Homo sapiens: one gene and its partners. The protein of the gene in region 3 purifies or fractionates together with the protein of the main gene of each other region. This does not show direct contact. Each region holds a gene or a part of one and is shown on either strand. Other genes may lie near its edges.

The links.
Region 1: the proteins of MINK1 (region 3) and MOB4 purify together in Homo sapiens (affinity purification with mass spectrometry; 3 studies listed by BioGRID and IntAct, with this or other methods). This does not show direct contact.
Region 2: the proteins of MINK1 (region 3) and CNOT2 purify together in Homo sapiens (affinity purification with mass spectrometry; 2 studies listed by BioGRID and IntAct, with this or other methods). This does not show direct contact.
Region 4: the proteins of MINK1 (region 3) and CNOT9 purify together in Homo sapiens (affinity purification with mass spectrometry; 3 studies listed by BioGRID and IntAct, with this or other methods). This does not show direct contact.
Region 5: the proteins of MINK1 (region 3) and STRN3 purify together in Homo sapiens (affinity purification with mass spectrometry; 3 studies listed by BioGRID and IntAct, with this or other methods). This does not show direct contact.
Region 6: the proteins of MINK1 (region 3) and TNKS1BP1 purify together in Homo sapiens (affinity purification with mass spectrometry; 2 studies listed by BioGRID and IntAct, with this or other methods). This does not show direct contact.
Region 7: the proteins of MINK1 (region 3) and CTTNBP2NL purify together in Homo sapiens (affinity purification with mass spectrometry; 2 studies listed by BioGRID and IntAct, with this or other methods). This does not show direct contact.

The regions. Positions count from the first base shown.
Region 1 is NC_000002.12:197,522,250-197,526,507, reverse strand, and holds part of MOB4 (MOB-like protein phocein), read right to left. Parts: intron 2,885-4,258; coding exon 2,822-2,884; intron 1-2,821. Other genes in the region: HSPE1-MOB4 protein, read right to left, coding at 2,822-2,884.
Region 2 is NC_000012.12:70,336,978-70,341,235, reverse strand, and holds part of CNOT2 (CCR4-NOT transcription complex subunit 2), read right to left. Parts: intron 3,848-4,258; coding exon 3,723-3,847; intron 3,481-3,722; coding exon of another isoform or gene 3,451-3,480; exon of another isoform or gene 2,817-3,450; intron 2,794-2,816; coding exon 2,673-2,793; intron 2,571-2,672; coding exon 2,414-2,570; intron 1-2,413. UniProt on the Homo sapiens protein: Component of the CCR4-NOT complex which is one of the major cellular mRNA deadenylases and is linked to various cellular processes including bulk mRNA degradation, miRNA-mediated repression, translational repression during translational initiation and general transcription regulation.
Region 3 is NC_000017.11:4,894,945-4,898,561, reverse strand, and holds the end of MINK1 (misshapen-like kinase 1), read right to left. Parts: intron 3,488-3,617; coding exon 3,320-3,487; intron 3,227-3,319; coding exon of another isoform or gene 3,213-3,226; coding exon 3,069-3,212; exon of another isoform or gene 3,068-3,068; intron 2,865-3,067; coding exon 2,730-2,864; intron 2,560-2,729; coding exon 2,459-2,559; intron 2,370-2,458; coding exon 2,220-2,369; intron 2,134-2,219; coding exon 1,974-2,133; intron 1,889-1,973; coding exon 1,749-1,888; intron 1,359-1,748; coding exon 1,275-1,358; 3' UTR 501-1,274; downstream 1-500. UniProt on the Homo sapiens protein: Serine/threonine kinase which acts as a negative regulator of Ras-related Rap2-mediated signal transduction to control neuronal structure and AMPA receptor trafficking.
Region 4 is NC_000002.12:218,575,092-218,579,349, reverse strand, and holds part of CNOT9 (CCR4-NOT transcription complex subunit 9), read right to left. Parts: intron 1-4,258. UniProt on the Homo sapiens protein: Component of the CCR4-NOT complex which is one of the major cellular mRNA deadenylases and is linked to various cellular processes including bulk mRNA degradation, miRNA-mediated repression, translational repression during translational initiation and general transcription regulation.
Region 5 is NC_000014.9:30,914,469-30,918,726, forward strand, and holds part of STRN3 (striatin-3), read right to left. Parts: intron 1-4,258. UniProt on the Homo sapiens protein: Calmodulin-binding scaffolding protein which is the center of the striatin-interacting phosphatase and kinase (STRIPAK) complexes.
Region 6 is NC_000011.10:57,314,437-57,318,694, reverse strand, and holds part of TNKS1BP1 (182 kDa tankyrase-1-binding protein), read left to right. Parts: intron 1-807; coding exon 808-877; intron 878-4,258.
Region 7 is NC_000001.11:112,394,883-112,399,013, reverse strand, and holds the start of CTTNBP2NL (CTTNBP2 N-terminal-like protein), read right to left. Parts: upstream 2,801-4,131; 5' UTR 2,742-2,800; exon of another isoform or gene 2,429-2,741; intron 1-2,428. UniProt on the Homo sapiens protein: Regulates lamellipodial actin dynamics in a CTTN-dependent manner. Associates with core striatin-interacting phosphatase and kinase (STRIPAK) complex to form CTTNBP2NL-STRIPAK complexes.

The DNA of each region.
Region 1 (4,258 bases), on a different chromosome or scaffold from region 3:
TGTCTCTAACTAAAACTACAAAAATTAACCAGGCGCAGGGGCGGGCGCCTGTAATCCCAGCTATTCAGGAGGCTGAGGCAGGACAATCGCTTGAACCCAGGTGGCAGAGGCTGCAGTGAGTTGAGGTCACGCCACTGCACTCCAGCCTGGTGACAGAGCGAGACTGTCTCAAAAAAATAAAAAAATAAAAAAAGTAAGAAAAAGAAACACATGATCATCTCAATAGGTGCAGAAAAAGCATTTGACAAAATTTAACACCATTTTATGATCTAAAAAGCACTGAATGACCTACGAATAAAGGAAACAACTTCAATATAATAAAGACCATATATGAAAAATCCATAGTGAACATCATACTCAACAGTGAAAAACTAAAAGCTCTCCTCTAAGATCAGGAAGAAGACAAAGATGCCCTTTTTCACCACTTTTATTCAAAGTAGTACTGGAAGGTCTAGCCAGAGCAATTAGGCAAGAAAAAGAAAGAAAACAGATCTAGATTGGAGAAGTAAAATTATATGACATGGGTCTCGTATGTAGAAAACCCTAATGATTTCACATCCAAAAAACCTGTGAGAATAAATGAACAAATTCAACAAACAGGACACTTCCCCCTATTTTTAAAGAGATAACCATCTGTACATTTTTCTTCAAAATTTAACCAATTTCTAGGCATAGAGCTAGATCTAGGTTTATATTCCTTTATCTTCCACAAGGCCTAACTCATTGCTAGCTATATCGTGAGAAGCCAATAAATATTTGCTGATTGAACAGCACTTTTTCTTTTTTTTTTTTTTTTTTGAGATAGGGTCTCTGTCACCAGCCTGGAGTGCAGTGGTGCAATCACAGCTCACCATAAACCCTTTCCTCCCACCTCAGCCTCCTAAGTAGCTAGGACTACAGGTGCACGCCACCTAGCCCAACCTTTTTATTTTTTACAGAGACAGGGTCTCACTATATTGTCCAGGCTGGTTTCAAACTCCCAACCTCAAAGTGATCCTCCCTCCTCGGCCTCCCAAAGTACTAAGATTACAGGTGTGAGCCCCCACACCCAGATGGGTGGTTTTTAATGCTCAAATAATTCAACTATATGTCTCTTTTATTTTCTAAGATCTTCAAATAACATAACAAATCCGAATAGCTGTCTACTTTTTTTTTTTTTTGAGATGGAGTCTTGCTCTGTCCCCCAAGCTGGAGTGCAGTGGCACGATCTCGGCTCACTGCAGGCTCACTGCCTCCCAGGTTCACATCATTCTCCTGCCTCAGCCCCCGAGTAGCTGGGACTACAGGCACCCACCACCACGCCCGGCTAATTTTTTTATATTTTTAGTAAGAGATGGGGTTTCACCATGTTAGCCAGGATGGTCTCGATCTCCTGACCTGGTGATCCGCTCGCCTTGGCCTCCCAATGTGCTGGGATTACAGGCGTGAGCCACCGCACCCGGCCAGCTATCTACTTTTATTATCTGGCTATCAAAATGAAGCCAAACAGCCTCGATTTATGGTATATTTTCCCTTTAAAAATGTTATCATCAGCCAGGGCAACATGGTGAAACCCCATCTCTACAAAAAATCAGCCAGATGTGGCAGTGTGCGCCTATAGTCCCAGCTACTTGGGAGGCTGAGGTAGAACAATCACCTGAGCCCAGGAAGTTGAGGCTACATTTTGCCATGCTTGAGCCACTGCACTCCAGCCTGGGCAACAGGGTGAGACCCCGTCTAAAAAAAAAAAAGACAGGTGCAGTGACTCATACTTGCAATCCCAGCACTTTGGGAGGCCATGGTGGGTGGACTGCTTGAGCCCAGGAGTTCAAGGTGGGCAGCATCGCAAAACCCTGTCTCTACTAAAAATTCAAAACAAAAAAAATTTAACCAATGCCTAATCCAATATACTAGTACGCTCCAATTTATATTATCTTTTTATTAGCCCCTTAATGAAATTGTATTTTTGTTTTTGTTTTTGTTTTTTTTTTTTTTTTTGAGACAGAGTCTTGCTTTTGGCCAGGCTGGAGTGCAGTGGCATGATCTTGGCTCACTGCAACCTCCGCCTCTTGGGTTTAAACGATTCTCCTGCCTTAGCCCTCCCGAGTAGCTGGGACTACAGGCACATGCCACCATGTCTGGCTAATTTTTTATGTTTTTAGTAGAGACAGGGTTTCACCATGTTGGCCAGGATGGTCTTGATATCCTGACCTAGTGATCCACCTGCCTCGGCTTCCCAAAATGCTGGGATTACAGCTGTGAGCCACCACACCTGGGCTATTTTTATTTTTTTAAGATACAAGATCTCACTCTGTCACCCAGGTTGAAGTACAGTGGCACAATCATAGCTCATTAGACCCTTGAAGTAGGATCAAGTGATCTCCCCACCTCAGACTCCCTAGCTACTGGGACTACAGGTGTGTGCCACCATGCCTGGCTAATTTATCTTTTCGTAGAAACAGGGTCTTGTTATGTCGCTCAGGCTGGTCTTGAACTCCTGGCCTCAAGTGATTGGCCTCCCAAAGTGCTGGCAGCCACAGTGCCCAGCTTAATATGCCATCTTAAAACAAAATGAGGGTTGACTAAACTTTTAAATAGGCATTCCATTAATTCAGTGGAATCTTCTCTATGCGAAAAGATATAAGAATACTTAACTATGTCAGAGGTAAAATGCTTAGGTTATTGGAGTTGTAAAAGGAACTATTTTGTTTTGTTTTGTGAAAGAGCACGCTTTATTGGGAAGCAGACTGCTGCACAGTGACCAACAGACAAAGGCCACCCAATGGGCACTTACACATCGTACTCCAAAAGACACAGGGTGAAAAGAAACTATTTTTATTACCTGTTGAACAGCTAGTGTACTGTCCATTTCATCAAAGGATTCATCAGGCCAATTATAGAAATCCTATAAAAATAAATTCACGGTTAAAGCACATACAAAATACTATTATGATTAACTTCAATTCTTAATAAAGACCCAAAGCTCACACTAGAGGGGAAGAAAAAACTTTTGCAATGTAATTATCAGTGAAATAAGGAAATAAATTTTATTCAACTTTTCTTTTTTACAGACAGGGTCTCACTCTGCAGCCCATGCTTGTGTGCAGTGGCACAATCATAGCTCACTACAGCCTCAAACTCCTGGGTGTAAGCAATCATCCCACCTCAGCCTCTCACCTTAGCCACCCTATTCTTAGGATTATAGTCCTGACCCACTGCGCCTGGCTGTTTAATGTTTTTTAAATGAATATTAAGATTTTATTTAATTGAACTATAAATTACGTTTTTTCCAATCACAGATTCCTCAAATACAGCTCCCATAAACCTTTAATGTATTACTTAATTGGGGAGACAAGTCTATCACTTTTTTATGATGGTTAAATATCTCTCAAAAAGTTACAATGAAAAAAAAACTCCAGACACCAAAAAGTAAATCAGATTTTTACCAAAAGAGAATATCTAGCATTAGTAGCTAATTTACTGCTCCATAATTATTATTATTAATATTATTATTATTATTTTGAGACCACTCTGTCGCCAGGCTGGAGTGCAGTGGTGCGATCTCAGCTCACTGCAACCTCCACCTCCTGGGTTCAAGTGATTCTCCTGCCTCAGCCTCCCGAGTAGCTGGGACTACAGGCACGCACCACCACACCCAGCTAATTTTTGTATTTTTTGTAGAGACAGGGTTTCACCATGTTGGCCAGGATGGTCTCAATCTCTTGATCTCGTGATCCGCCTACTTCAGACTCCCAAAGTGCTGGGATTACAGGCGTGAGCCACCATGATCGACCCATAAGTATTATTTTAAAAAGAAATTATAAATTATTATTCTCATTCCAAATAGAGTTTTGAATTTCTAAATCAAAATATGGGCACCATTAAAAAGTAATCATCAGACTGGGCATGGTGGCTTACACCAGTAACCCTACCACTTTGGGAGGCCGAGGCGGAAGGATCACTTGAGGTCAGGAGTTCGAGACCAGCCTGGCCAACATGATGAAACCCCGTCTCTACTAAAAATACAAAAAATAGCCGGGCATGGTGGCGTGCGCCTGTAATCCCAGCTACTCAGGAGGCTGAGGCAGGAGAATTGCTTGAACCCAGGAGGCGGAAGCTGTGGTGACTCAAGATCACGCCACTGCACTCCAGCCTGGGTGACAGAGCAAGACTCCATCTCAAAAAAAAAAAAAAAAAAAAAAAAAGGTAATCACCCATGGGTACAAAAAAAATAGAAAGAATGAATAAGACCTAGTATTTGCTAGCACAATAGGGTGAC
Region 2 (4,258 bases), on a different chromosome or scaffold from region 3:
AAACAATAATCATGTAAGACCTTGCAGGCCTGTGAAGATTTGGGGTTTCTGGTCAAGCGCGGTGGCTCACACCTATAATTCCAATACTCTGGAAGGCCAAGGTGGGCAGACCACTTGAAAAGTGAGGAGTTAAGAGACCAGCCTGGCCAACATGGTGAAATCCCGTCTCTACTAAAAATACAAAAATTAGCTGGGCATGGTGGCACATGCCTGCAATCCCAGCTACTCAGGAGAATCGCTTGGACCTGGGAGGTGGAGGTTGTAATGACCCGAGATTGCATCACTGCACTCCAGCCTGGGCGACAAGAGCAATACTCTGTCTCAAAAAAAAAAAAAAAAAAAAAAAGATTTGGGGTTTTTAATCATAATGAAACCACAAACATTTACTGGGTGTTGAGCAGAGGAGTAATGTATTAAAAAAGGATTGTCTTGGCTGTTATATGAAGAGATTGTACGGGAAGGGGTATAAGGACAATCAGGGACCCCCAGTGACTGGCTAATGGAGTATTCAGGCAAGAGAGAATGATTCAAACAAGGGTGGTAGCAGTTAAAAGTAGTGAGCTTTGGTTAGATTCTGTATATATTTTGGGAAAAGCCTGATTATGGGGTATAAAAGAAAGAGGAGTTAAGAATAATGCCAAGTTTCTGGAAGTACAGAGTTACCACTAACTGAGATTGGAAAGGCTGTAGACAGAATAAGTTGGGGGGTGATCATTCAAGAAATATTTAATTGGCAATTGAATGTAGAAATCTCAAACTCAGAAGTGTGGAATGGAAACATATGTTTGGGATTCCTCAATATATATGGTATTTAAAACAATAAGACTAGAAAAAGATCATCAAGGATGTAAATGCAGAGAAGAGGAATGACACTGAGGTCAAGAAGAAAAGGAGGAGGTACCAGCAAAGGAAACTGAAAAAGACCAACCAGTGAAGATGAGGTAAAAATGGTGCTCTCAAATTCAAGTACAAGAATGTGTATCAAGGAGCAAGAGTTCCTCCAAGTGACCACTGAATTTAATAACATGAAGGTCATTTGGTGACCTTGATAAAAGCAGCTTTAGTGAAGTGGCAGGGACAAAATCCTGACTGAAATGGGCTTACCAGAGAATGGGAGAAGACCAAGTCGGAGAAATGGAGATGACTCTTTGAAAAGTTTCGCTTCAAAGGGAAATAAAGAAATGGGAAAGTAACTTACGGAGGAGGTTGGATCAAAGGAAGATTTTCTTCTAAGATGAGAGAAGTAACAATGTATTTCTATGTTGATGAAAATGACCCAACAAAGTGTGAAAATGTGTTGTAAGTAGAACGCATGGGTCAATTATGGTAATAGGGTGGAAAACAAGAATAACATAGGTGTAGGTGGCTGTAGGTAGTCAGATTTGTTGGCTAGACTGTGCTAAATGTGCTCTTCTAATTGCTTCCATCTTTCTTAGTACAGTAAAAGTGAAAAGCAAGATCATCATTTGATAGTAAGAATAAGGAGAAAAGGTATTAGGGGCATGCAGAAGTGTACGATAGTTGCATAAGAGAGCAAAAGAGTAAATGGACTAAGCATGCAAGGTATAATTATCACTGGTAGAATTAAGAGCCTACTTTTGAGGCTCCTGGGCATGAAAATAAAGGAAGACCAGGCAGTGATATCATGTGTTTTTCTCTAGCAGAGCTCAGTAGCACAGGTCAGGAATGAAATAGGCAGAAACAATCAGTACTGTAGCTTTGGCCATGCAAGTATAACAACATGAGAAAATGGCAAGTAGTCATGGGATATGTAAATGAACAATTATGACTGACCACAGAATTTCATGGGTAAGAAGGGAGTTGATCACAGGGGAAAAGAGACGGGGATCTGGAAGAACAGTTAAAATACCGAAGAATCAATAGATTGAAGGTCCCAATGGAGTGAAATGATTACAGGAATCACAGTACTAGAAGAAGAGAAATAGAAAATAGAAAGTGGAAGTCGGAAAGCATGCGAGCTCAGATTTTAAAATTGAGAGACTGCAGTTACGAACAATGACTAGGTCAAAGGGATAACTAAAGGAGTGGCTGAAGTATACTACAGGACAAAAATTCCTGGAGGAAAGAAATTCAAGGAGCTGAGATTTCAGGATTCTGGAAGGTGTGTGTGTGTGTGTGTGTGTATATATATATATATACACACACACATATATACATGCACATGCACACACACACACACACACACACACACACACACACATAAAATGCCAAATTATAAAAGGAATACTGCAGAGTGACAGTGATCTAAGAGCTAACATGAATGGGAATGACCCAGAGAATCAGCAGGTTAACAATGAGTAGCAGTAGGTGAGATAATTTGATGACATGATATTAAAAACTGGAAGTCTGAAGAGGTATTATATACAGACATGGAAAAACAGAAAAAACTTACTCAGGAGAGTTCAGATTGAGGCCTAATGTTGTTAAGTCACTTCCTAATGCAAGATGTACCATTCCTGGGTCTGTCTCTGCTGCCCTGATAAATGTTAACAGGCCAATCATTCCAAATTGGTCCGTCACCATCCCTTGAGGAATGTTAGTAACCCGACCTGGGTAGGAAAAACACAGTTGCTTTTATTTTCAAGAAAAAGTTAAAAAATAGAAAAAAAAGCATTCTATAATATCTTTGACATAGATTTCTAGAGTCCCACCATCAGGTAACACCTGGATCCCTTTTTTCTGCTGGTTATTATTTTGTGTTGTTGAACTTTTATCTCCAGGGAATTTGGGTCCATCTGTACTTGAAGTTGTCTTGCCAGATGTATTCAAATTCTAGCATGAAAAAAATTAAATGTGACATTAAAATTTGTTAAGTATACAAATTCAAGTTCACATATTAATACCTTGCTATTTATTCTTTATTACATTTAAATTGGTAGTTAAATTATTACCTGTTTTTCAAGTTCTATAGAAAATTGTTTCCATCATTGTTCCATGGTATACAAATAAATCCTATATCATCCACATTTGAGTATTTAAAGAAAAAGAAATCAAGGGAAAATATCTTATTTATCTCAGATCTTCAGTCACAGAAAAAAAAAAATCTATCTCTTTCTCAGGTCTTTATGCTTTGGGATACACTTGAAGTTACACTCCTCAATGCTTTCATGTAAAAGAGAAACTAAATATAGTATATTACCTAAAATCACCAAAGCTACCTTGAAGATAAGTTAGACATACAAGCTTTAAAACTTTGTACTTATTTTAATTCTTACCGATCTTCTTTATCAATTATTTTAATAATATATAAACTCCCATCACACACAGAGAAAAGCTATTTTCAGTGAAATGTGGAAGAAATAAACATATTTGTTAAGTCAGAAAGAAGAAGCTGAGTTGGTTGAATCAACACAGGTATAAAAATGTGTATAAATTCTTCAAGGAGAAAACTTACTCAAGAAAAACACAGCTCCTTAGAAGGCTATATTATCAAACTTCATGGGATCCAGCTGACAGGGACTACAATAAAAGTCTAAATTAACTCTGAGAAGTTCAACAGAAATTTGCAAACCTATATGAAATAGGAAAAAAATAGGCTATCTTCTAAGTTATAAAGCTTTTCCACATTCTTCAGAAGTTAGGTTATTACAGATATCAAGATAAAACAGTTTTGTAATAGTATTTAGTAAGTAATTGTTAATATAAGAGAAATCTGAAGGGAAAAACTACATCACTCACATACACACTTCTCAGTTACTTACAGATTTACTGTCATCATTACTTGATGTTGGATCTTTATAGCTGGAGCCTGGTAATGCTGGAAAATCTTCATTGTGTATTGAGAAGTCCTGGGATTGTTCATTTGCTGGTTTTGTTACCATTCCAACTATGTAATGAAAATAATCCGGAGAATTGCAATTGATATTTATGATATTTTGCTACAGATTATAAAGTTAACTTTCCTCATGATAATACACCAAAAGGTTTCTTTTTTTTAATGCTATGAAAGCGTACTTCAAAAAATTAGTATCCAGGGTAACAATGAAGAACTAAATTTTCATTTACTGATTAATAACTCAACATACAAAATAATACAAGGGAAATCAACAGTAATCCATGTCATGCGTAGGTGCTTAAAAATTTAATTTGATATTGGATTAATTATTAACAATTTTGGTTTAAAAGCTTGTTTTATTTAAATATTTGACTAGATATTATAAATACCAGTTAACTCTCAAATACAAATGAACAAAATAAAATTTAAAAGAATATGTCAGTATTCTACTTGAAAGCGACT
Region 3 (3,617 bases):
CAGGGGTCAGCAGGAGGAAAGGGTTCACATAGGCTCTCAGGTGCCAGTCTTCCAGAAAGCAAGGACTGCCCTTCATTCAGCCTTGCTGACCTCCCAGCCTTTCTAAGGCTCAGCCCCACGGGACTCTGGTGGCTGCCAGCTTGTGAGCTATCTATCTATATTCATTTCATAGCCAAACAGGAGACCCCTTTGCAGGACTTGCACACAGGGAGGCTGTAGCCAGGAAACCCTCTTCTTCCCTGGTCTGGCTCTGCTGGAGCGGGTGGGAACCAAACACCTTCAGTGCTGGTGGCCCTCAGGCCCACAGGTTTAAGGCTGAGGCTGCCCTGACCCTTCCACAGTCATTTCTTCTAGGTTTTCTTGGCCCAGCACTGCCCATCCCACCCCATGAGGCTCACTCATTGCAGATCCCAGCCCACCCTGCCCCTTTCTTCCCCACCCTGGAGGCTCTCTCTGCCTAGTCTACAGTACTGACAGAAAGCAAGGACATGCGGCCTGCATGGTGGGAGCTGGTTGAATTGTCTTTATTAACAAACAGGATATCCAAGGCCACTACATTGAGGAGGGGTGGGGGGGGAGGGAGAAGGGTTACTTGCTGCTCACACTATATACAGATGCAAGCAAGGGGCGTGGAGAGTGAGGGCTCCCTGCTCCCTCCCTCCACCGGGGAAGGGCATGGGCTAGAAGAGGAGAGGGGGGTCGGGAATGGGGGGAATGTTTTGGCTGGCGGGGTCCCCCCTCCATTCCCTGGAGTTTGGGGGAAGGGGAATCATTAAAGTGCTTTCAGAAAATGAAGAAATGGTCCCTGCCCCTGGAGTGGCTGGTGACCCCCCAAAAATCTAGGGCCCAGTGACCCCCCCCAGGGTCTGGTACATTCAAGGGGGGAGCCGGCTCCCCTGACGTGCAAATAAAGGGGTCCAGGGCCCTGCCCAGTCAGCAGCAGTGGGGTAAGGGGTTCAAGCCCCAAGCACTCTCCTCTCAAATGGAGAAAAGGGGGGAGGGGCTAGGCCCACTCAATTCCTGGGAAGGGGAAGCTGTGTCCCTCCCCAGAAGCTGGGGACAGGCACAGTTTTGGGAAGAGGACATGTTGGGGAAGAGGATGGTCACGTGATCACGAAAGCATCAGGGGTCAGAGGTCACGTTCCCAGCAGGCTCCAGTGAAATCAAACCAGTAAAAGCAAAAGCCCAGGGAGGGGAAAGAGGGGCGGCCCGGGAAGCCTGGCTGCAGGGGGAGAGCTGGGTCCAGTGTGGGACAGCCCCAGCCCAGGGCCCCGTCACCAGTTCATGATGCAGTTACGGTTCAGAGTCATGAAGTAAACTTGGCTGCTGCCCCCAGAGCGGACTGAGGCAAAAAACACCTGGGTGGGGCAGGAGAAGAAGTCACCAAGGGCTGAGGTTGGGGGGGTGTCTCAACTGGGAGAGGGAAAGAAGGGAAGAAGGGGTGGCAGAAGAGTTGAGGGAGACACAGAGACTGCAGGAGGAGACTCACAGTGCCCCTCACCCGGAGGAAAGGCAGGCTGGGATGTTAGGGGAGAGGGTGCACCACTCGCCCCCTGGGGGCCAGCTGGGAAGTCCTCGGAATCTGAAGGGAGCGCAGGGCAGTGGTAGTGGCTGACTGCCCTCTGAGCTCCCAGAGGGGCCCGCTTTCAGGAAGCCACCACCACCATCCTCTCCCCAGAACTCTGCCCAGGGGCCTAGGGTCATGGCAGCCGGGACAGCAGGGCTTTCAGAGGGAAGGAGCCTCCCACCTTGTCATTCCGCTCACACAGGAACTTGAGCCTCTGAGCTCGTTTGTGCATGAAGACCCCGTCGAGGTGGCCCGTCTCCACAGAGCGGATCTCAATGGCTTTCTCACCCCAGCCCATTATCTGGTTGGAGCAGATGTAGGCTGTGGGGAACAGGTGAGGGGCTGAGCAGGCTGCACCCCGGGGCCACCTCGGGGCATGTGGCTGGGAGGGCGGCAGCTCACTCACCCACAGAAGTAGGCATCTCCCCCCACTGCAGCACCACATCCTTAATGATGCGCCCGTACGTGTTGACGTAGACACCCTCGTCCTCGTAGCACAGCAGCATCTCCATGCCGTCGGTGTTGGGGAGGAAGATGATGGCATGGGGCGTGATCTGGCTCTGGATCTGGGGAGAAGGAGGGGGACTAGAGTCTCCGTGTCTGGTGCCCAGACTGGGCCATCCCACTCCCCCAGCAGCCCCGCCAAGCTCACGTGCACAGGGATGTAGATGTCATAGCTGTTCCCCGAGTCGACATCCACAGCATGGAAGCCAGCACTGGAGCCATAGATGACCTTGAGCCGCTGCCCCTCCTCTACTGTCAGGTCGACCAGCAGAGGGCGGTGGGGGAGGTCGGCAAAGGACTGCAGAGAACCGGAGGAGAGGAGGGCTCAGGGGCACGGGGAGAGGCGCTGGGACTCCAGATGGTGTTAGGGACCGAGGCTGGGATTACCTTGAAGGCCATGAATTTGTGGTAGGGTTTGGGGGCCCAGGCATACACCTCCACGGAGCTCTTGAGGGCGATGACCAGGAACTTAATCCGCTCGTATTTCACTGGGGGCGGGAGAGAAGAGGGATGCTGAGACTTCCCTTCTTGCGCCACGGGCGCCTCCCCGTGGTCTGTCACTACACTGCCCCACCCAGGCCCCAAGTCCCTGGCTCCCAGATCCATTTCTCTCTTCATGAACAAGTATGCGCTGGCCACTCTGTTGGGACATCCTCACCAACACGGTAGTGCCCGCAGCCCTCCATGTCCCCCACGGTGGTCCAGCCCTGCTTCTTCTCCACTTCTGGGTCATTGTGCAGAATCTTGTTCCGGAGCCAGGACAGGTAATACACCCGCAGTTTGTTCCTTTTCCCTGAGGGACGGACAGACATACACACCCGCCCCCATTCTCATCTGAGGCCCGAATGCCACCGCCCTGGCCTCCTCTGTCAGCATACCACAAGGGGTGAGAAAGTGTGGCCCCACCTTCCAGTGCCTGCCCTCCTCCCAGGCAGAAGATGGTGACAGCGCCAAGGAGCTGAGCCCCTCCTCCCTCCCCCACTCACCACACCTGTACCTGAGATGGTGATGAGCAGGTTGAGCCCCTCCAGCACATCCATCTGCTGGAAGCGTCGCCGCCCAATGAGTCCATACACCTTGCCCTGCCCACTTCGGTCCAGCAACATCAGCCCGTTCTCCGTGCCCACCAGCAGGTTGACCCCTGCAACAGGAGCCCTTGGGCAGGTCAGAGGCTCAGCCAGGCCCTCACCTAACCAGGAGCACAAGAGCCACGCCAGAGCCTCCTCAGCTGTCCCTGCCCTGGCTTACCCCAAAGGGCTGCACAGAGGATCTCGGAGTTGAATCGCTTCTTGTACTTCCGGATCTCAGGGGTCTCACTGTGGGCCCGGGTGTTGGTGGGATTCACGTTGACCACAGAACCCTTCCTCACGTCGTACTGCAGCTGGTCGAGCCGAGTGCCCTCTCCACCCACTAGGGCTGCCAGAAGGAGGAGGAGGTGGGAGGAGGGGCTGCAGCTTCTCACCCCATCTCTTTTTACCTCCATCCCCTATATCAGGTCTTGGCACCTCATAATACGCAGAAAGGAGGAGAAAGACAGGAGGAGAGG
Region 4 (4,258 bases), on a different chromosome or scaffold from region 3:
TACAGAAGAGCATATAAAATGTTTCCATTAATATACACACATATAAAAATAAAAAATACATATACATTCTTACACATTTACATATAACATTTCTAGAAGGACACATAAAGAACTGTTAACTGTAGTTACCTCTAAGGTTGGGGATTTACAGGGAGACTTACTTTTCATTGTTTACACTAAAACCTTTTGCATAAACTTTTTTTAAAAAACCATATGCATATAATAGTTTTTGAGAGGAAAAAAAATTATGCCTTCCCAATACTGGTCCCTCCCCAGTGATTCTGACATCCCCCCTCAACTGAGCAGAAAACCTGTAATTTGGAAAAGCTCTCCCTCTTAATGATTCTTCAGTATATTCTCTAACTACATCCCTTTGAGAACCATTCATTACTTACTCATGTAGGAAATACATACTTAATAGGGCATGCTTTCATTATTATGCTAAAGAATCACAATATTCCCCCCAAATTTGAATATTTTATAATTCTCTATAGTCATCAAATATGTTTGTGACCTTGGTTAAGTTCCTTAATTATTCTTATCTGGAAAACAAGATGGGAGACTAGAAAAATGATAATTGCTACCCCTAAGCTCTAAACTGCTAACAAATTCCTGGTGATTTCCATCTCTATGCCCAATATGTTCTCAGGTAATTGCCCCCAACCATGAGAAATAAAAGAAGGAGCGGGAGGCGGGGGGGAAGGCTATCTACACTTGCAGATGAGATCACTAATGTTCAGAGGAATTAACTCACTCAATTTAACCAGGTATGAAGGTATGAAGTTGCATATTCCCGTACTTTTTTGAACTATATTACAGTTTCTCACAGTACTTATAAGTTCCCAAAAGATCTTAGCTTGACAGAATGATGACCTACCCATTGTACAGATGTAAAGACAAAGAACACAAAGAACTGCCTTTGTTGAAGATCAGAAGCATAAAATAGACTTTGAAGTGGATTCAAATTTACTCTACCCAATCTGAATAATGGCCTTTTAAAAATGGAAGCTTCATTGTAAGTTTTTAGCTTTATTTTTACTATTTCACTAGCCTGACAGAAAGAACCACAAGTTGTTCTGCTAAATAGACTGAAATACAATGCAGCTTAAGCTTTAAGTGCCTTACAGTAATCTGCTAAAAGCTGTTTTGTAACTCCCTTCAGGGATGGTCCTCAAGGAATCAATCATAGGCTCTTAAAGCAACAATATGATAGAAGGAATATGGTAGCTTTTTTCCTCCTTTCCCAACAGCAAAAGCAGTGTTGTTCAGGCACTTGCCCTTTCTAGGCAGCCACAAACAGGCCCTCAACTTAAAAACTATTTTTGGAAATGTAATTCCTACCTGAAGATAGGGTATGTGTTTATTTAGAATATTACATCACCTTAGACGCTCAGCAGAAACACAGGATAAAATTTTAGTGTTAGGTTTCCTGCCCAGTCTCTTGGATGACCCCACAATCCAGTAACCAAAGGGGGCCTCACAGATACTGGTCTGGCAATATAGTACCTTTCCTGATTAATCAGTACCCATTCCAGCTGACCTTCCCCAAAGTCTTGTCATACAGATACCACCATCAGTAAACTCCATCATCCCTACTGGAGCCAGTGTGTGACTTGCAGTTGGCACCTTGTACCCCATCTTGCCCTGGTAACCACTGGTTTGCATACCATGCCTCCTGAACACCAGGCCCCATCCCTACATATTCTCTTTCTGGAGCTGGCCTGATGCCCACAGAGAAGATGGCCCTGCTGGCAGTGGTGTAGGCACTCTGAAAGGCCAATGCCTGGTGCGTACACGGGTTCCTAAAGCCATGGACACCTGCTGCTAGCAATACTCCAATTTGTGAGATTATTTGTGGGGGCTGCAGCCTCCATGTGATTTTGATTCTAAGAGAGCTAGAACCATGTCAGGTGGGTGGTAATGTGGCCCCCATGGGCACTAGCTTGGTGTTATGGGTTCTGCTGTCATTCTAGCCAAAAGGAGGGCAGTTTGGTGCCAGGAAATATCTAGGGTGGGGATCCTCCTTTTCATCATCCCTGTTGCATTTCACCCCCAATTTAATAACAGCAGTAAGTTACACCAACTGAATACCCACCTGTCATGGGATGAATACAATTTTTTAAAAATAAAAATGAGAGCTTAAAACATACAGTGCTTACTCTGCCAGGCACTGTCCTAAATACTTATATTTACCAGCACTCTCATTTTATAGATAAGGAAAATCTGAGGCACAGAGAAGTTATGTAAAATTTAAATGGCAAGCTAGGATTTGTACCCAGGTGTTCTAGCAACAGAGCCCACACTTTTAACCGCTTTGCTAATGCTGCTTCTCATCTGCCTGAAAGACAAAATCTGATCTAAAGATGACTTTTTTTTTTTTTTTGAGATGGAGCCTCACTCTGTCTCCCAGGCTGGAGTGCAGTGGTGTGATCTCAGCTTACTGCAACCTCCGCCTCCCAGGTTCAAGCGGTTCTTCTGCCTCAGCCTCCCCGGTAGCTGGGACTACAGGCATATGCCACATGCCCAGCTAATTTTTGTATTTTTAGCAGAGATGGGACCTTCCCACGTTGGCCAGGCTGATCTCAAACTCCTGACCTGAAGTGATCTGCCTGCCTTAGCTTCCCAAAGTGCTGGAATTGCAGGTATAAGCGACTGTGCTCAGCCTAAAAATGACTTCCTAATAAATTATATTCTTTGACCTAGACAATATAGTTAATACATAAAAATCTCAGACAAAAAGTAAAATGTTATTGGTGGTAGTTCAACAAAATCTGAAAGAACACTCAGTACTATGAACAGTAGCATTGATGTTAGGAGAAATTCTCTACTTATTGAGATTACAAAGCACTTAATAGGTATTGTTTTCAGAGAGAAGTCAGTACAATAGTTTCACATAGTTCCCTGTGTCACATTATGGATCAGATGGGGCATAATTTACTTAGTGAGAACCACCAACACACACATGGACATATAACAAGCAATTTTGTAACACACATATAGGAATTTCATTGTTTTGGAGAATAAAAAGGAAATATTCTTATATTTTGAGTTATATATTAATTTATATAACCAGATGATTGATAAAATATTTTGGACATTCCTAAATAAAACACCAAAACTCAAAATGTATCTTACTCTCCTTCCATATCCCAAGAGTTATTTAGGCCCATCTTTCACAAAAAGAATCTGTAATTGACATCTTTTTAAAAGGAGGCGGGCAGTAGAAGAAGGGGTACGGCAGGTGAGGGAAGAGTTAGTTCTGTTGTACCACCTTTTTTTAAAAACATGGTTTCATTTAATGATCACAACATGGTGGTTATTAACCTCATTTAACAATCGATGAAACCATGGGCAGACAACAGGCAGATTTACTCCTCATGCCACTCTGTAACGATCACCTCTAATGATTCCTAGTTCAGATGCTACAACTCTTTGAATTTTTAATTTACTAATACATTTCTAAGGCTGTGGCTGATATGGAACTCAATCTAGTAGCACACATTGCTCACTGACAGGCAAGCAAATTAATCTATGACTTCTCTACTGGAAATTACCTTATTTGAAGCATTAATAATAATTGCAGGATACCAACCAAGAGAGCAGAGGTTGACATTTTTTGAGGCCCAGACCCTTTAAGAATCAAATGAAGTCCGGCACGGTGGCTCACGCCTGTAATCCCAGCACTTTGGGAGGCCGAGGTGGGAGGATCACAAGGTCAGGAGTGTGAGACCATCCTGGCTAACATGGTGAAATCCCATCTCTACTAAAACTACAAAAAAATTAGCCAGGTGTGGTGGCAGGCACCTGTAGTCCCAGCTACTTGGGAGGCTGAGGCAGAATGGCGTGAACCCGGGAAGCGGAGCTTGCAGTGAGCGGAGATTGCACCACTGTACTCCAGCCTGAGCCACTGTACTCCAGCCTGAGCTACAGAGCAAGACTCATCTCAAAAAAAAAAAAAAAAAGAAAAAAGAAAAGAAAAAAGAAAATTGTGGATCTTTTACTCAGAAAAATACACAACTGCAAAAACACGAAAACCTACACATAATTTTAAGGAGTTCACAGAGTTCCTGCAATGTATCCATGTACCCAGGATTAAGAATCTGTTTATCAAATTGAAGAACAGGAAAGACCTCAATTTGCAAGGAACTACATGTGTATATAATTGGAACACACACTGGCGTGGGAGCCTGAAGTGACTTCAAAATCCAGTTTTGCTCTTTCTAGAATTGTGTGACCTAGGATAAGTCATTTAACTTTC
Region 5 (4,258 bases), on a different chromosome or scaffold from region 3:
CGGTCTCCCAAGTAGCTGGGATTACAGGCGCCCGCCACCACGCCCGGCTAATTTTTCTGTTTTTAGTAGAGATGGGCTTTCACCATGTTGGCCAGGCTGGTCTTGACTCCTGACCTCAAGTGATCCACCTGCCTCGGCCTCCCAAAGTGCTGGGATTACAGGCGTGAGCCACCGCGCCCAGCCTGTCTTCCAGCTTTAAAGCTTTGACTATGACTTTTATTTTAATGTCCCATTCTAGTTACCATGACACTCTAAAATGAAGCAAGTAATCTTGACCACAGAGCTTTAATTTCTGATCAGATTTGCCATTTCAATTTCAAACTAAACTCAGGTTGAGCTTCACTTAGTTTTCTCAACTATATCATGTGCATTATTACAGCTTTTCATGTTAATATTAACAGTTCCAATTATTTAAAATGCGTTTTCCTTTCTATACATACTACTGACCAATTAAACTCTGCCATAATTGAATGACTATTATCTAAATATTTTGTTGTAACAGTCATAGTTTAAGCAACAACCTTCAATATCATTTCAAATATGCTTTGAAAGCAAAATTTTAACATTAAGATAACAAGGGAGAAATACTCAAATCATAATATAAAACTCAATATATCAAAACACACTTAAAATTCATGAGCAAATTTAAAAGGGACACATTATACAAAAAATCAAGCTGATTATCAATTTTAAAAAAATTCCCATGAAAAATGATATAAATATGCTACAGGAAACACAACAGGTGTAATGAAACTTGACAGTCATCACTAAACTACTGGAAATAATTCTGAGAAGACACAATTCATATATATACTATGGCAAAATAAAATTCAACTGTACTTAGAATATCTTGTTATTTTATTATTTTATCCTATCAAAATAAGCTATATAATCTGACTCAAATAGGGCTCTAAAATGCAGCTCTGATTCAGTTACTTGATCTAAAATGAATCTGAAAGCACCTGACAGAAAATATATAGAGATATTAAGTAGTATTTAATCTTTCAATGATGACACTTATTGAATCTGAATAATCTGTAGCATTGATCTTTTGATCTTTTCCTACCAATTATTAGTATGCAGTTATTGGCAATACCAGAAGCAGCTAAAAACTATAAAATCAATAATTTAAACTTATGTTTAAGGATAATTATATAAAAGTCATTATATAATATTTACTCAAAGCATTTTTCTCTAGACAAAGAAATATTTTTACTTTAAGCTCAGGGAATTTGTTTCTAAGAGAAGTCAGAACAAAATGCCACAGTTCCTCCCACTCACAATTATACAAACATTCACTGACACAAATCTCAAAAGCCCAATAAAATAACTTTAACGTAACAAATGATTTTGCAAGACTATCTCTGATCAGCCAGACCAATTTAGGAGCATGTGAAGGGAAGTGTCTGGACATTAGTTTTACTCGAGTTTTGGCTTAATTGTACTTAACAAAAAATTAGTATTATACTCATTTCTAATTAATCATATGACCACATTTCTGTCCTTTTTCTCTATATACACACATATATTTTATGACATATTTATGTACCTATTGCAAGCTATTCTGCTTAATCACTATTTACACATATATGTGCAAAAATTCTTTTACACTACTACCTCTGCTTTCCATATTACCCATCACTGTGGCATATGGTAATCACAGCAGCTACTCATCTGTTTGCCCTTATTTCCCTGCAGAGGGAATTAATTTCTATCCTATTCATTTTATTAATGGTAATATAATTACCCATAATATAAAAATGTCATTAGTAATTCAAAGAAAAATGTAATTATTTAAACAAGTAGTTTTTTTGGTTTTTTTTTTTTTTGAAGTCTTGCTCTGTCGCCCTGGCTGGAGTGCAGTGGCGCGATCTCGGCTCACTGCAAGCTCTGCCTCCCAGGTTCACGCCATTCTCCTGCCTCAACCTCCTGAATAGCTGGGACTACAGGCGCCCGCCACCACGCCCAGCTAATTTTTTTGTATTTTTAGTAGAGACAGGGTTTCACCGTGTTAGCCAGGATGGTCTCGATCTCCTGACCTCGTGATCCACCAGTCTCGGCCTCCCAAAGTGCTGGGATTACAGGTGTGAGCCACCGCGCCCGGCCTAAAAAAAGTAGTTTTAATATCTTCTTTTTTTTTCTAATAGAGACAGAGTTTGCTATGTTGCCCAGGCTGGTCTTGAATTCCTGGGCTCAAGTGATCCTCCTGCCTTGGGCTCCCAAAGTGCTGGAATTACAGGCATGAGCTACTATGCCTGCCCTAGTTTTTAATTTAATGATGGAAATTTAGGAGGCCTAAGAGATTTCATCAAGTAAGATAACAATACTAGTATAACGGGTCTATAAAATACAAGGTCTTTTTCAGACTTTTGTAACTAATCTTCCTTTTGATGGACACTTATGATGAAGGAAACCTGTAGCTCGCATATTGAACTCTTTTTCCCAAGAACTTAGTCCAGGTAACAGATTCCATTTATACCAGTGGCAACATGGTAGGTCTCAAGTCTTTAGCAGCAATAGTCTAGAAGATTGTAATGTTGAAGTTCCACTCCTAGAAAACAGACATTTGTTCTTTATAAAATGAGGTAGGACATGGACTTCAAAAGTAAAGAAGGAAGTTGGGGACTGCCACTGAAAATAAGGAGACTGTATACTCCAAAGCTGCCTTCTTAGCTTGAAGTCAAACTCACACCTCTTTAAATAACAAATTCCAGGAAGATCGATACTTCAAAAACTGTAATGAAGTTCACACTTATCAAATCTCTCCCCTCGCCCTCCTACCAGCATCAAGAAACAGATCACTGACCTATATTCTTTCTTTAAAACACACACATAACACATAAACAAACACACATAGAGAGTTCTAAGTTGGTTTTTGTGTAGAGTGTGCCTTGACTGGCTTTTTCCGTTAAGTCATTGGTTTGAAACATTTAAAAGGGTCCACATTGCTAACGTGGCTTTGCCTTAAATTGCAAAACCTGCACTTTAAATGTACATTAATTACAAAAATTTTAGCAAGTTGTACTATGCATATTTGGCAAAACAGACCAAAAACGAAGCAAAATCACCACTAAATGCATAAAATTAAAAAAAAAAAAAGGAGTTGCTATGTGTATTTTAGAAAATACTTCTAAAGTAAAACAGGAATATATCTCAATAGTGGAAATGAGATCTGAAAAAATTAACAGACACTATTTTATTTTTCATTCATTTTGTTTTGAATGATTTTGTTACTTTAGTGATTTTTTTTAAGGTGAGTGAAGTAAATGGTAAATTATGAGAGGGAAAAAATGCAAAATTATTTAACTGTAAGGAAACTGTGCCACTAGGGAAATCTTAAAAGGGAACAAGATGTATTTAAAATTTTTTGACTGGGACATCAAACAAATCCCCTTTACAGAGCAAAGGCAATAACATCAATTAAACTTAATACATATGCCAAATTACTGTATCTCATATGTCACAATAATCTTTGGTTAAAAATTCAGATTTAATACTTATAAATATCTAGACTTAGAGTTATACATGATTCAAGTATACCCATATATCTTCGGCTAAAATCAATTTTGGAAAAAATGTTTAAGTAGTACTTTCATTTCCTACACATTTCTGGTTTAGGCAAATTTTATAAAATTCATTACTAGGTAGCGTATACTTGCTACCAAGTTAAAGAATAATGATGCTGCCTTATTCTCAAATGATTAATTTAGGTAACAGTTACATATATTTTTTGAAGTAATATATATTTAATGTAACAGATTGGGCACTGTGGCTCACACCTGTAATCCCAGCGCCTTGGGAGCCAAGGTAGGCAGATCACTTGAGGTCAGGAGTTCGAGACCAGCCTGGCCAACATGGTAATATTCTGTCTCTACTAAAAATACAAAAAATTGGCCGGGGAATGGTGGTGTGCGCCTATAGTCCCAGCTACTTGGGAGGCTGAGGCAGGAGACTCGCTTGACCCCAGGAGGCGGAGGTTGCAGTGAGCCGAGATCATGCCACTGCACTCCAGCCTGGGAGACAGAGTGAGACTCTGTCTCAAGGAAAAAAAAAGAAAAAAAAAAAGGTTCCAAGCACAATGCCTGGCACCATAGTTGTCTTCTAGTAAGTGGTAATTACTATTAGTTCCTAAATTTAAGCAATAAGACAAAATGAGTAGTTTTTTCCATATGTATTATTTTAAGTTTGTTTTTATAAATTACTATTTTCCCATTACTGGATCTGTAGCTAAAATTAGATTTAAGAAAAGACTCTGAAT
Region 6 (4,258 bases), on a different chromosome or scaffold from region 3:
GAGGCATCTCAGGAGCCATCAGCTGCACAGAGGCTGTCCTTAGTGCTGGGAGAGCCAGCTTGAGGTATGGCTGGCTCCTTGGGCCTTTAACAGCTCTGCTGGGCTCAGAGGCTCCCTTTCTCTTCCTACTGCTATGAAGGCAAGAGCTGGTGTGGTCTGGGCTAAGCGGGAAGCTGAGGGTCCCTGCCCTGCCCTGCCCTCTGGCCTTGCCCTTCTCTCACCTGAAAGTGTCTGGAGCCTTGGCCCCAGAGCTAGTCCTTTGCCTGTCCCAGACCAGGGTGCTGTGAGGTCACACTCTTGCCCAGGCTGGGTTCCACCCGCCATCTTCCTTCTCTCCCTCACTCCAAGTAGGGCTTAAGAACAACTTCAACCCTGGAAAATCACTCTTTCCTCTTCCCCTCCCCCACTGCAATTCTTCAAGAAGTATTGGCAGGGCAGCAGGACCAGCTGCACTCTTCCTGGCTAGAGGAGAACTTTAACTCCTTATGGGTTAAAGGAAAGAGGAGTTATCTTTTTAGGAGCTGTTGAGAGGTCTGGGCATCCAGGATGCTTTTCCTAAAGTAGCTGGGGAATTTAACCCTTCATGCTCAGGTAGGGAATAAGCACTGTTTTCTGGGGCACTTGCCGAATGGAAAATGGACAGATTCTGTGTCCCTAATAGTTGCAGGCAGGGCTCAAGAGTAAATGGCTAGGAGGGTTTAACCTTTGGGTGCTGTTAAAGTTGCACTGGGAGACTCTCCCACATTTTCCATTCTGTGACAGACTCTAACATTCCGTGCTTCCATTTCCTGTCCTCGTCCCTCACAGGAGCCTTCCTTCCGACCTGGCCTTCAACGGGGACCTGGCTAAGGCAGCCAGCTCGGAGCTACCTGCTGATGTGAGTTATCCTCCAGTTATGAATCAGAATCACGTATTTTAGAGCTGGAAGGGTCATATGAGATCATCTTTTCTACTCCTTGTAGTTCAGATGGGGAAACTGAGGCCCATGGGGAGAGTGACTCACTGGAGGGCTGGCCCTGGGATTTTTCGACTCCTGGGCCAGTGCTCTTGATCACCAAAGTGGCTAGGTGTGGTTAAGGCCATGAGGCCATTCATCATAAACAGTAATGATAGTATCCACAACAACTGCCATTGATTAAGTCCCTACTATGTGCTGGGCCTGTCCTGGGAACGTTAACCAACTCAATCCTTGTGATAACTCTGGCTAGTAGACCTGGTTAGTCCCATGTGAGAGATGAGAGCACCTGTACTCACAAAGGGTAAGTAACTTAGGCTGAGGCAGCAGCTACTGTGTCTGCCTCCCATGCTTTCCCTGGCTGGGCTGCCTTTTCTGAGTTCAGAAGAGGGGTGAGTCCTTTTGCTGAGATTTTCCCATCATACTCCCGTTCTTGAAGATGGTCAGCCTGCTTTCTTGAGTAAACAAGGTACAGGATGGCCCTTTTTGCTCATACAGCCCTTGCTAGCTGGAGATCTGACTTGATTCATTTGTCCATCCAGCAAGCAGTGACTGAGCGCCTGTTAGGAGCTGGATGTTGGAGATAGCTGTGAAGGTAGAGTAGAGAGTGCAGGGACGAGTGTGGTCAGGGAAGGTGTCACTGTGAAGGGCAGAGGCTGAGCTGTGTGCATGTCTGGAGAGCAGCATTCTTGGTAGAGGGCACAGCAAGTACAAAGGCATTGGTGCTTTCCTGGCAAGGAGGCCAGGATGTCTGCCTGGCAGTGAGAGAGGAGTTAGGTGGTAGTGAGGACCAACGGGTTGGGGGGTTGGATTGTGTCAAGTCTCGAAGGCCTCTAGAAAGACTTTGGCTTCAGTGAGAGCAACAGGCCATTTGAAGGGTTTGCAGGAGAGGCATGGGATGCTGCTGTCTTAGTTGTGAAGAGTCACCTGGCCCACTGGATTAAGAATCAGTTGCAGGGAGGTAAGATCAGCAGCATGGACCAGTCAGGGGGCTGTTGGAATAGTCCAAGTGAGAGATGATGACGGCTTGGACCCTGGAGGTAGCCTACGGTGGAGATGGGGAGAAGTGGTTGGTTCTGGATAGAATTTGAAGGCATGGTGGAAAGGACTTTCAGATAGATAGAGAGCACAGAATCAAGGGTGACCCCACGGCTTTTGGCCTGAGCAACCGGAAGGATGAGTTTATGGTTGCCGAGACGGGGACTTCTAAGGGTGAAGCAGGATCGGGGGAGATGGGAGGAGTTTGCTTTGTGGATTTGTTGAATTTGAGATGGTTTTCAGACATCCATGTGGAAACGTCAAGCGGATGGTTGGGTAGTCGAGTCTGGCCTTCAAGGGAAGTGAGCAAATTTGAAAGGAACACTTGGGAATTGTCAGAGTAGGAATGCTTGTGAAGACTGGCTGAGATTACTGAGAGTGGGGATGGTGCAGGAGGGGAGGGCCCAGAGGCACAGCCAAGGAGACTGGGAGGACAGTGAGAGAGTCCACCAAGTGGAGACAGCCTCCAGGACTGGGGGAGGGCGCCATCAGCTGTCAGATGCCACTGACAGGTCAAGTAAGATGAGCACAGAGAATTGGATTCAGCTCCAGGGAGGTCATCCGTGACCTTGACGAGAGTAGTTAGGTGGCAAGGTAAAGGAGAAAGCCTGTTTGGAGTGGTTTCAAGAGAGAAGGGGACAAGAAGAACTGTGGATATTAATAGTGAATATAGACAGGGCTTTCAAGAAAATGGATGGTAGCTAGTGAGTGATGTGGGGTCAAGAGTGGTTTTTTGGTTTGCTTTTTTGGCTTTTCAAGACAGAAGAAATTAGAGCAGTTTGTGTGCTGATGGAAATGATCCAGTAGAGAGGGAAAAAAAAATCGATGCAGGAGAGAGAGGAGGGATTGACCTCAGCCCCAAGCGAGGACAGTGCCTGATAGCAGAAGGGGAGGCAGAGTGCTTGGGCTCCCATGCAGGAAGTAGGTGGTGTGTGTGTGTGTGGCGGTGGGGGGGTTGTCGGGGGTTCTCTGCTGGTGGCCTCTGTGTTCTCAGGGAACAGGAAGCAAGGCCATCAGCTGAGAGAGGATTGGGGGAGGTGTGGAGGTCTGACGGGAGAAGATGCTAAAACATTGCCTGGGAGAGTCATGGAGTGAATGGCAGGGGGAGTGCCGTGGGATTCTGGGCAGCTCTAGGGCCGGCTTGAGGTCAGCAGTGAATCTGGAGTGAGACCAGCTGTCACGATTGTGTGTTTTTATCCAGCCACATGCAGCTACTCAGGTGCTGGGCTAGGATTGGCCCAGCTGTATTGGAGAGCTGTATTTAAACAGGTTAAACAGTATGATGAAGCAGATGAGGGAGTTGAGTGTTGAGTAAAAAGTGACGTTAATGGTGATAAGAAGAGAGGTGAGGGTATGAGGGGAGTGGGGGACAATGAGAAAGAATTAGGGTTAAGGGGCTGTGCTATGAGAGGGGCTGAAAATAAGGGCGTTGGGGAAATAGAGTGAGCCGGTCAGATAGGCGGTGGGGGTGGGCAAGTGGGATACTTGGGATTGAGATGATGCAGAGGTTGCAGCCACTGGTAAGGATGAGGTCTAGGGTGTGACCTTGAGAGGATGGGTCGCACAGTCACTGAGGAAGAGGAGGTCAACGAACCAGAGGCTGGAAGGGTCGCATCTGGCTATGGAGATGACTGTAAGCTATCACAACAATGATGGAGAGGGTTGCAGTGATGCAGCGGTTATGGTTTTCAAGGAATGATGGGTGCGTAAGGGTCAATAACAAGAAAGAATTGTGGGTGCTGTAGTTTAAGGGCACGAGCTTTGACATTAGAACGTTGCAGAGGGGAGTGAGCATGGAGGGAACAGAAGGGACCTTGAGAAGCAAGCAGGACCCTTTATTTTGCCCAGGCCTAGTAGGTGATGATGTGGGAGAATTAACGACATGGGAGAGGGCGGCCAGGGAAGTGTGACCTCTGCAGAGGGCAAAGGTCAGATGGAGCCAGAGTCACTTCATTGTCTGGGGACAGGTGGAGTGCCAGGTGCTTGGTGCCTTGTTTGTCCCCCTCTTCTCTCCACGTCCTCCCCACTCTCTGCCGCCATCATCCCATGAGTCCTATGCCGAGGGGCCAGTGCACACATTTCCCTTCACCCTCACCTAACTGGGAGATGAGCATTGTTGCCACCAGCCCTAATGTACAGATGGGGAAGCTGAGGCTCAGAGAGACCAAGTGTCTGCCATATGTGAGGGAGGGCACATGCTGGTAAGAGGCAGTGCTGGGACGGCTCAAGCCAGGCGCTGTCACACCCCCCAGTGCCTTTTGCCTG
Region 7 (4,131 bases), on a different chromosome or scaffold from region 3:
TCAGCAATCAGTCCCTAGTGATCTCTCCTAAATTCACTTCATTCCTATCAGGTCAGATATTTAGAACAATAAAATCCTAAAATGATTAGCACTCATTACGTTCTTAAGTCTGGTTCAAATTTCATGACAGTAAAATAGTATTTTCTAACTAGCAGATTACATATATATTTTTTTAACTTTTTTTTTTTTTTTTTTTGTTAAGAGACAGGGTCTCTTTCTGCTGCCCAGGCTGGAGAGTGCAGTGGCATGATCATAGCTCACTGTAACCTCAAACACCTGGGCTCAAGCAAGCCTCCTGCCTCAGCCTCCCAAGTAGCAAGGATTACAGGGATGAGCCACCACACCCTGCCTCACAGATATTTCTTTATAAGAAATTCAAAATTTTAGTCACTTAAGACACTGGAATTTCATAAGACAGAAGATGGGGAAAATCAAGTTAAATGAAGACAACAAGTAGGCCGTTTATACTAACAAATTGTGCCAAATCTAATCAGTACATTGCCTTTCAGTCTACCCTAAGGTGACAGCCTCAAACTAAGTTAAACAAACACTCATGAAGTCATACTATATACTAGGAACTGTGAAAGATATAAAGATGAAAAACAAAAAATACTACTATCTGCCCTCAAAGAATTTATAATTCAAGGAGAGAGATCAGACATCTATCCTCTGCATACTATGCTTTTCTTCACCTAGCATGACCAAACAGGTGTTGAAAAGGTTAAAGGAAAGATTTTCAAGACCCAAAAGTGTAACAAACAGATCTTGCTTACTGTGCTAAATAATAAAAGAATATTATTTGCTTTTTCCTATTAAACCTCGGCAATCACAACTTTGGTTTGCTTAGTCTCTTACCTTAGTTTATTTTCTGTTCTCTGTTGATATAATACAACTTATCTTTTTGGGATTTTCTGTTCTGCTTTTAGTTTTTTCTGCTGTTATTGCTGGGAGCTCACGTCTTACCCTTCTATTGCAGCACACATTGCGTTTGCTAGAGACACCCTCCAGTTTCTTCTTTGTACTTTCTTACTGGAGATTTGGAAACAATCACTGAGAAGACCTGTGAGCACCGAGTGGCTCTGAAAACTTCAAACCTAACTATTCAAAAGTAATTATCTTTAGGAAGTCTACCTTCAGAAAGTCTAATCAAGAAGGTAAAAGACAACAGTCATTACAATCACCCTCCGTGATTCCAACTCCTTGCATTTTATTGCCATCAGCTTTGGCTATAGCTGACAGAGGGGAGGTAGACTTGAGATTGGAAGCAAAAGAAACTATGCTAAAAACATGGTAAATTTTAATATATAAAAGCGCTAGCAATAGATGATTACTGGGGATTCAACGACATTAACATGAGGTCAAAATCAACACTTTGCACCTGCTGAAATGAAGACCACTTGACAAAACCTTTAGGAGCACACTAGAAGAGGCACTTTTTGGTAAACATGAATAGCTAGAATACCTTGCCTTTATTTACTCTTATCTCTGAGATTTAAAAATTGTTCTTACTTTTCATCCTCTAAATTTTGATAGATGATCGTAAAACCAATCAAAATATACATGAATGTTTCCTGGGGGCGGGGAGGACACTATAAAAAAGGGGTTAGAGAGTTACCAAAGGACATAGGACTAGATTAATCATAAACCTAGATGACTGACCCTGAATTTTCTTCAAACACTTCCTGTCTTTTGTTTCAACCTGCAGTATACCTTCAAGGTTAACTGCAGTCTCCCTGAGCAATGGACCAGCCCACCCTAGACTGGGATATACTCATTCCTAATCCACTGCTACTTATTTACTTATGTATACTGTTTCATTTGAAAACATGGTGTTATTCATTGACTGTCAAGCAACATATACTGCATTCCTGCCCACACAAAGCCAGCTCTGCAGATATCCAACACACCCACCTCACTGTGAAATATAAGATGGCTTTTCATCAAGTTCTCAGGGAGGAAATAGGGTGGAAAAGGAAAAATGAAACGCAATTCAAACCTAAGAAACCCTTAGAGGCTGGGTGCTCCCAGAAGGAACAGAAAGTAGAAGGAAGGTACAAAGGGTGAAGGAGAGGAGGTCCTAGTTCTCCCTCTTTCACAGTCCAAAACAGTCCCAAAACAGGAGAGCTCTCGACTCCTCACAAGAGGCCAGAGGATGCGAGGGGCTGCGGGAGGAAGACTGAGCATCAGAGAATGGGGGATGGGAAGAACTTAAGTGGGAGAAGCCGCTTCCTCCGTAAAGCTGGCTGTCTAGGTCGGTCTTTGATTTTTGCTTCGCCCCATCCCTCCTTTTTGGGAAACACCAATTTTATCTTACGGAGGAAAGCAGCTCCAGTCCCACCCTGGCGAGCAGGGACAGGTGTAGGGAGGGATGTTTGGCCTTCCGGGGGTACGAAATGGGGTTGGGGGCGGCAGCCTAGAGAATCGGTACCTGTGAGTCCTCTCCGCCAAGGCTGAGGTGCGGGGTGGGAGGTGCCTTTGAATGAGGGGTGTCAGAGGGAAGCCCCTTCTGAGGAGCTGGGAATCGACGAGGGACAAAAAGTAGCTGTGAGGACCCTCGGAGGATGAGGAGCCGCCTCCTCGGGGAATACCGGGAGGTGGAGGAGACGGCCCCGCCCCCTCAGGGGATGGGCCCAGAGGCCGTTGAGACGGCGGCGGGAGGCTACCGGTGCCCCTATCCTTGCTTTGCTCTTGAGAACCCGGCCTCCCAGCCATCACCAAGCCCCAGGGATAGTTGCTCCTACCTTTCCACGACGCTCCGGGCTCCGCTCCCCTCCGCCTCCACTCCCCATCCACAGCGGCTGAGGCTCCGCCCCCTCAGCCGCCCGGCGGGGGCATTGGCATTCACCAGCGCCAATCGCCTCCTTGCTTCTCCAGCCTCGGCCCCAATCCGCGCCGGCTGGAGGCGGGGCTTCTCCAAAGTCATTCAGGCTCCTCCCGGGGCCCCAAGATCCCTTTTGTTTGGGAAGAGCAAGGCCGGGATTGAGCTCGCGTCACTTCCGGGAGGAAGCGCCCTCCTGGGTCCTGGGCTTCAGGGTGGGCTCGCGCCCCTCCCGGCTCGGGGTCTGCAACTTTCCACCTCTGCGTGAAAAGTCTGGGCAGGACCGTGACTAGTGCTTCGTGCTTTTACCTGACTGTACGCGGAGTTTAGGAATGGAGGGCTCTGGTGGCCTAATCGATTGGGATTTTATCCAGAATGTTAATAAATGAAGTGGGCTTTGGTGTCTGCATTAGAATGAATTCGTTGTTGAAAAACCTGGCTTCCTTGCTCCCTTTTTTTTTTTCTTTTTTCTGGAAGCGCCTGTGGGCGTGGTGCTGGAAGCAAGGGTGCAAAGATGAAACACCTGGAGATCACCCTTCTCTCAACCACATTTTGTACAGAAGAGGATACTAACTTTGGGGGACATAAACCCAGCCGACCTGCCTTCCAGGCGGAAGTCAAATAATTGCAAATTTGTGTGGCAGGTTTTTCCACCCTATGCTTGCCAGCTGAGGCGACTTTTTTCTTTCCTTGGCCTCATTATATTGTGGGGAATGGTGTTTGCAGTGAAGTTGAAACAATGGAGAGTACAGAGGATGCAAGGAATGTCTGCCTTGTGAACACAGGAATGCAGATCTTGGTGGCAGCAAGTCTTAGGCAGGACCAAATAACTCAGAGAGGGGAGTGGATGTATAACTAGTTGTATCCCTACCTAAGGTCAAAGTTTCTGAATTCCTTTTCCACAGAATGGCTGTCAGCTCACAGATTGATGCAGCTGGTTACATTTACAATAACCACATTATTTAAAATACAATATAATAAATATTTGAGACGAATATTCATAATGCATAAATAATGTAGTACACTTAATACATTATCCCTAAACTTAGCAATTATAATTCGCAAGACAGCATTAGGGACCTAGTGCTTGCCTAGGCAGACAGTCCCCAAGGCAGATGCAGCCTGCCTCATGCAGTTTACAGTCTGACTGAGGGATGTGATCAGTTTGTGCGATTATAGTCTGAAAGAAGTAAACAAGTATTTATCATGTTATCACTGTGCCATGTACTTTCATTTAATGGTATTTGATGTCATTTTCAGTGCTGTATGAGAAATCTATCCTACAGTGTAGGATAGACATCATTGTGTCCAAT